Homo sapiens: one gene and its partner. The protein of the gene in region 1 purifies or fractionates together with the protein of each later gene. This does not show direct contact. Each region holds a gene or a part of one and is shown on either strand. Other genes may lie near its edges. The genes, in order: IL17RD and SLC7A11.

Region 1 (4,353 bases):
AAATCCAGTTTCTCAGGACTTGGTGCTGCACCTTGCTGCCCCCTCTCAGGTTCTGAGTATGGCCCAGGCCCACAGAAAGCCTCCTCTGATTTGCATCACATATAGTCGACCCTTATCCTTTTATGTTCCTACAGCCCCACTGTAAGCAACCTTAGAGCTGAGGCCAACATCTATGGACTAAGTACCTCTTATTTGGTAGGGGACCCAAACATGAATCAAATACTCTAGTCACTGTGTACCAGTACTTCCTAGCTGACTCCCTGACAGAGCAACTTCTAGAAGACATGACCTAGGGAGGTGTGGACAGGGACAATTTTTTGCAGAAGTGATGCTAGGGCCGAGAAAGGAAGCTGCAGAGGTGTAAAGGAACACAGGCAGGAACAGCATGTGCAAAGACAATGGACCTTGATGCCCTGATCTTTGCCTCTACTTCTTAAAATCTATCAGGAAATACAGGATTTAGCAGGAAGGCAGCAGGGTCTAATTTGGTTCAGCCAATATTTACAGGGCTCTGACGCCACCAAGATGAGGTTCAGTGCCTGGCTAAAGAAACTAGTCTGAAGACATAGAAGTGAACAAATACTGACAAAGCTGTCTGATGAGACTAAAGTGCAAGGACCTGCATGAGAAGGTAAAGCAAGGGGCATGGCATTCAGGAGGGCTTCCCTGAGGAGGTACCACCTGAACTGAGTCTTAAGATAGGCAAGGAATTCTCAAGGGAGGAAAAGGCATCCTGGGAGGAGGGAAAAGCATGTCTTGGAAGCACAGAGGGCATCCATCCGGAGTTAGGAGCAGGATGAGAAGGGTAGGGGGTGAGGCTGGAAAGGGTGGGAATGCAAAGCATGTGGGGAAACTGGGTCCATGAAATCCACCAAGCAGCAAATCCAGGAGACAAGGAACCATGTATCAGCCTGGATGAGCCTGGAATCTGGAACATGGCCCAGAGGCCTCTACGATCGTCCAGGAGGCGAATGAGGATGACCCAAGGAAACGATTGGTGGGGCCAAGGCAGGAGCAGCTGAGAAAAGTCACCCCCAACTAGGGGCTGTGGTGGAGAAAACGTCAGCATAAGTGTGAGGTGACTGGGACAGAGCCACCATTTTATGAGGGTGCAGGTTTGGGAGAGGAGAACACACTCGCACAGGTAGAAGAAAATCACCAGCCTGGCTCCGTCAGGGCACTACCATACCCCACAGCATGGAAACTTCACGAGTTTTGTACAGTGGCATAAGAAGCCACCTTGGCAACTGCAGCAAAACAGTGAATCGGACTGATTTACCTACGCCATCACATGAACACTCAAAATAAAACGCCTGTGATATTGTAGTCATTCAAAAGCCAATAGGAGTCTAAATCCAAAATTCTAGTAGGATCCTTAAGTCAACACGAGATCCTCCTTGAGGAAACTTGCTAGCTACTAAAATTTTTTTAAACAATAAAACAAGAGCAGTAATGTTTTACTGAAATGGAACACAGTAAGAAAATGTGATGCTTTACTCAACTAGGAAGGAATGACAGAGCCTAATGGGGCGGGGGGGCGGGGGGGGAAGGGGGTGGCGGGGGCGGAGGCAGAGCAGGGGTCATAGCCGTCTCCATAGCTTAGCTACTGAGTCTGAAGACATCCCAGCTGTCTGGCTCACACCTGGTTTTCTGCACCACATTTCTTGGGACTGTGGGGCAAGTGAGCTTGGAGGCACCAGCCTGCGTGCCTAAGGGAGTGTTATGTCCTAGGTTTTGGCTGTGCTGAGGCTGTTTAGAGCCACCCAGAAGAGGCTGAGTCAACGTTCGCCTAAGCAAACCACTCCATACCTATCCCTCAGCCCAGCAATACTAAGGAAATTCTCATTTCATCCCATTTTTCATATGAAGAAATTGAGGCTCATGGCTCCCCAGGAGCAGAGCCAAGGTCATGTCCCTGCTGCCTGAGTGCAAAGCCTACGTTTTCTCCACAAGCTTAAGGCCGTGAGTGCCCTGACGCCGGGCCCACCCGGGCCTCGGTGGGAGACTCGGGGCAGACGGACATCATCTCCAGGTTCTGGGGCCGCCCAAGGCCAGAAGCCCAGGTAGGGAGCAGGGAAGCTGAGAGGGGAATGGCAATCACCCGCGCCCATCGCCCAGACAGTGTCAAAGGAGCGCTCGGTTCCACGAAGACGGCTCAATGCACACGGCGAAAGTCTGGGCACCTCTCCAGTCTCGTCTCAGGCACCTCACCCAGATGACACCCACGCGGCCCTTTGGCGGAAAAATATCCGCAACTCGAAGCAGGGAAGGAGGATATCAGCCGCGAGACCTTCACAAGACGAAGGGCTGAACCGGGAGGCGAAGTTTCTCAGGAGGTCCCGGAGTCAGAGGAGGGGTAGGAGTGGGGTGACGGCCCCAGGCGAGGAGGAACAAAGCTACTAGAAGAGCGGGGCGCATCCCTCCCCGGTGCTCCAAGTCCCCTCTCCGGCCGCCCGGGCCTTAGCAGGGTTGTGGACTGAAAGTCCGGGAGAATACCCCCTTCCCTCTCCAAAGCGCAACCCGGTCCGGGTGGCTCGGGGGATCCCAGCCCGGGACACGCAGCCCTGGGACGAAGGAGGTCCCGGGCCAAGAACAAAGGGTGGGGCGCCCGGCCCAGCCCCGCCGCCCCTCACGCCCGCCCTCTGAATGGGACCCCGGCCGGCGGCCGCACCTCATTAGCAACACAAAGCCGGGGTCGGGCAGCCGCTTTCATCTCGGCCAGGGCCGGAGGACACGCGTCCGGGGAGGGAAACCAGGAGGATGCGCGGGAGGAGTGAGACCCAGGCCGGCCGCGGACCCCGCGAAGAGCAGACAGGTTGGCGCGGGCTCGCCTCCCCGCGAGCACCTGTGCGCGCTGCGTCCCCCGCGAGTTGGCGACGGCAAGAAACCCGCCGCCCTCGCCTTACCCTCCAGCCACAGGTGTCGGCGCCCCGCGCGCGGCCGGACCCGCCAGCGGCCACAGCCAGCTGCGAGCCGTTGAGGCAGGCGTTGACCGTAAAGAAGACGGAGCAGAGCTGCAGCCACGGGGCCATGGCCGTGCGCTCGCCCAGCCAGGCCGTTCTCTGCGCCCCGGCCGCCCGCCGCTGGCCAGCCCCGAGTGGGCGGTGGCCGCGGCGGCCGCGGCGGCAGCGAAGGGGACCGCACTGGGCATGCGTTGCCAGCCCGGGCCCCGCCCCCACCCTCAGTCCTCGTGTGCTGGCCCCGCCCCCACAGCCTGGCCCTCCAGTTGTGGCCCTGCCCCCGTAGACCACGCCCCTCTGGTCACGCCCCCCAAGCCCCCACTGAGACTCTGGCAGCCGCAGTTTCTTCCCCCTCACTTAGTAGATCTTTTTTTAATCCAAAGGATTTGTCCAAGTGATGCTCACTCTATGCAAAACCTGAGGAAAACACAAAGAATGTAATAATAATAATTTTAATAATAATTTAATAAACACCTGCTATGTGCCAGACCCCTTTCTGTATACGCCCAACCACACAAGGAAGTGTATTATTGTTATCCCAGTTTTAGGCGCAGAAAAGTTAGGGGAACGTGACAGAGAAATCCTGGCTCCACATTTACTAGTAGGACTTTGGACAAAAGGCTTGCTGTCTCCACAATACTTCCTCACCACAACCCCCCGTCCCCCTCACCCTCCTGGAAGCTAGAATAAGTATCCTAGTCTGGGGAGAGTTCTGTTGGTTGAAACATAACAAGTGCTCCATAAAGGCTACAATCTATCATTAACTGACTCTCATAAGGTCACACAGCTGTTACCTGCCAGACCTGAGATCCAATCCAGACCTGACTAAAAACAATACTCTCAGCTACTACACTTGTCAAACATAACCTCATGAAGTGGATATTATTTCTGTTTGGAAGAGGAAACTGAGGCTCAGAGAAGTGGAGTAGCCCAAGCTATCCAGAGTTTCACCGCACTCTTCCCAGCGCTTTGCCTTTTATCTGAGCACCTAAACTCTCCCACTTTGTCCCTCTCCACTACCCCCTTCCTCAAGAATACCACCTCCTCTTCCTAAGGGCTTTTTCTACTTCTGACTTTGTCCCCGTGTCCGATACATTTCTCCAGCCTGGATCCAAAGTTATCTTCCAAAAACACAAATCAGACTACTGACTTATCCCAATTAAAACTCTAGGCTGAGTGCAGTGGCCAATCCTAGAGGATCGCTTGAGTTCAGGAGTTAGAGGTAACAGTGAGCTATGATCCTGCCAACCGCACTGAAGCCTGAGTGACACAGTAAGACCCTGTCTCTAAAAACAAACAAACAAACAAACAAACAAACAAACCTACCACCACCACCACCAACAAAAAAAAACAGTAAAATTATGTGTTCTGTGTTTGGAGGAGGATTAATAAA
Region 2 (3,195 bases), on another chromosome or scaffold:
CAGGTAACCACATTGCATTGCCTCCCAGTGTGATATGACTGTGCTTCCAAGTATGCATCTAATAAAGTTAGTTAGTAGGAAAATTTGATGTCTAAATTTTATAATACACATTTAAGTCAGACCACTCACAACCCAACAAATTATACAGCTTTAACATGCAAAGGCCTAATAGGTTTTCCCACAAGATGCTGTAATAATACCCTGTCACACAAGGTACTCAAAATACAGTCACCACTGCAAAAGAGATACCTGTGCATTACTCTTTTTTTCCCCTCTGGCTTTCAGCACGGCCTTCTGAGGCTTTAACAAGAGGTAATAAGGACTTAGCAAGCAGTTCTCCTAACCAATACATTAATTCACTTGAAAGTCATACTTTTAAAAAAAATCAGTAGTGTATATGTTGAGGAAAAAAAGCATGTTCACTCTGGAACAAAGTTGGCCCTCTATGGCTCTCAGATGCCTAATGCTCTACAGTTTTGTGAGAGAATTGTTAACTGTAAAGCTGTAAAGGCGGTTATTGGTACTATAAATGTACACTTGATTCAAGTACGCTGAAACACACACATGTAACAGCTATTAGGACACTGTAACCGTCCTCTGTGTATTTTAAGGCCAATAGTAACAGAGAGGAGGGAAAAAAATAACTACCAAGAAAATAAAACTAATGGGTAGATTCACACTAAGAAAATCTAGGTAATTATATAAATTCATTGTTATGAGGTTGTAGAAAGGACAGTTATCTCACGACATATGGAAAATTGGTGAATTTCCTGTGAGACTATGATTTATGCTTTTGTGAATGTATACCTGATCTAAAATTAGACAAAACATTTATTTTTAGACACCAACTAATTGGAAAATATAAGGAAAGAAATAATTATCTCCCAAAATTGACTATTAAAAAATAATTTTTAAGTACAGTACTAATAAACTAAGGATGACCTAGAGAGCATACCTTTAGCTATTATTTAAAAATCTTTTTTTTTTTTTTTTTTTTTTTTTGAGATGAAGTCTCGCGCTCTTGTCCCCTAGGCTGGAGTGCAATGATGCGATCTTGGCTAACTGCAGCTTCTGCCCCTTGGGTTCAAGTGATTCTCCTGCCTCAGCCTCCCGAGTAGCTGGGATTACAGGCGCCTGCCACCACGCCCGGCTAATTTTTATATTTTTAGTTGAGACAGGGTTTCACCATGTTGGCCAGGCTGATCTCGAACTCCTGACCTCAGGTGATTCGCCCGCCTCAGCCTCCCAAAGTGCTGGGATTACAGGCATGAGCCACCGTGCCGGACCTATTTAAAAATCTTTTTGAAGTACAGTACTAATAAACTAAGGACTACCTAGAGATCACACTTTTAGATATTATCTATTTTAACATAGATTAAAAATACTGTTTATATGAAAATTAAGCTTAAATACACGTATAGGTAATAATTATTTTGCCCATATACAAGTAATGTAAACAGAGGCTATCAAGGTGACCCATTATCTACTCTAATTTATATCCACTATGAGCTTCTTCCCAGTTGTTATACAATGCCATATTTTAATTCCTGACTGAATGGTTAGGAAAGCAAAATGTAACTCTGTAAACTTGATCAGCACTAATGTACAACATATTATGGAGGGTAAAGTGAAGCAAGAATATATTCAAGTAAAATAAAATGTCTTTCATGGGCATTCAAATCCCACATCTCTCTATATTTCTTTCCCAACTAAGAGCTATAATTAAAATCCCATTTATTATTTTTCTATAGTTCAGAATCAACGTATAAAATATGATGAAAGTGAAACTATCTCCCTATATATCACATCATATATATTGTGAGAAAGTCACTTGTTATATATGGATATTTCAATTAACTCATAAATTTTTAAAAACATATCCTCCATACTTATTTCTAACAGAAAAAAATAACAGGAATTATTTTACTTTACTCACATGGACAATGCAGATTTTGTGGGGGTAGAAGTGTACACAACTTTGCTGGTCTTCTTCAACAAAATTAGTACAGAATTCCTAATACAAAGTTAGGTTCAGGACCTCGAATGGAACATGTCTAAGTGAGAGGCACTGAAGCTTAGGTTTCATTAGCTTCCTGCGAGATCCACCTATGCACAGCAAACAACTAATTTTTAATATTTCTCTGACTATATTGCATAACATTAAAATATTGTTACCTTCAGTCCATACTATCTTTCATTTCCTGATTCTCTGGCCTTCGGTTTTTTATCTTTTCATACCTTATACCTCAATTACAAAAGATCAACTTTAACAAAGGTCAGAGTTGCTCCCTTTCTTAGCAGTATATTCATCTGCAAATCAAGATAAAATAATGATTTTCCTGTAGACTGATTACAGTTCATGAGGAATTCTGTTATGTAATTATACTCTTGTTAACCCTCTATTGATATGTCAAATTGTAATTGGGGAAACAATTTTACCAGACACATAAGACGAACAGGAAATCTGTTTCAACGTGAATATCTTAGTGTTGGAGAAACCGTCATGCATTGCTAACGTAACCTAATAAGCTGTCCAAATTTTGTGTCCACAGGGCTGAGGAGCTACAGTCTAAATGCATACGCATGTTGGGAACCGAAGTCAGCCATCTTCCCTAGGACAAATCTTTACTCTTCTAAAGAAGGACAAGAATAAGGTCTACTTTCAGCTAACCATTTATAAGGTTCAGTTTTCATTGGATCAAAGGAATATAATCTAATACTTTTTAAATGGGGTCAAAACAGTATTATAAGGAAAATATTTACTGCAAATATTTATAATTGTGTAAGGAGAATCATTCTTTTTAAAATCAAGTTGTGTTTTAGCTTTAGAATCTTTTAAAATCACAAGTATTTGAGAATCCATCCCCACAAAAATTAAAAAATACTATATTAGTTATTTTAAACAGTATTCATTACTTTTACTGTTTATGTTATAATAAACTTATGTATATAAACATTTGAATATGCATGGTACAAAGTACAAGTACAGAACATGTAGTAAGTAGTATGTGCATGTATGTGTGTGTGTGCATATCGTATAAAAATATGAGAAAAATTTTACTTATATAAAAACATATATATAAATAAGTGTTCAGGAGAGTTTTTGAGAATCTGCTTTACATACTGCAATTTTGAGTGAAAATTATGGATATTAATTTCCTGATTAAAGGAACTGTGTCTTCTCATGATGAGTCC

Evidence for each region.
Region 2: the proteins of IL17RD (region 1) and SLC7A11 fractionate together in Homo sapiens (co-fractionation; one large-scale study listed by BioGRID). This does not show direct contact.

The regions. Positions count from the first base shown.
Region 1 is NC_000003.12:57,162,255-57,166,607, forward strand, and holds the start of IL17RD (interleukin-17 receptor D isoform a precursor), read right to left. Parts: upstream 3,100-4,353; 5' UTR 3,033-3,099; coding exon 2,907-3,032; exon of another isoform or gene 2,714-2,906; coding exon of another isoform or gene 2,672-2,713; intron 1-2,671. UniProt on the Homo sapiens protein: Feedback inhibitor of fibroblast growth factor mediated Ras-MAPK signaling and ERK activation. Regulates the nuclear ERK signaling pathway by spatially blocking nuclear translocation of activated ERK without inhibiting cytoplasmic phosphorylation of ERK.
Region 2 is NC_000004.12:138,166,165-138,169,359, forward strand, and holds part of SLC7A11 (cystine/glutamate transporter), read right to left. Parts: 3' UTR 1-3,195. UniProt on the Homo sapiens protein: Heterodimer with SLC3A2, that functions as an antiporter by mediating the exchange of extracellular anionic L-cystine and intracellular L-glutamate across the cellular plasma membrane.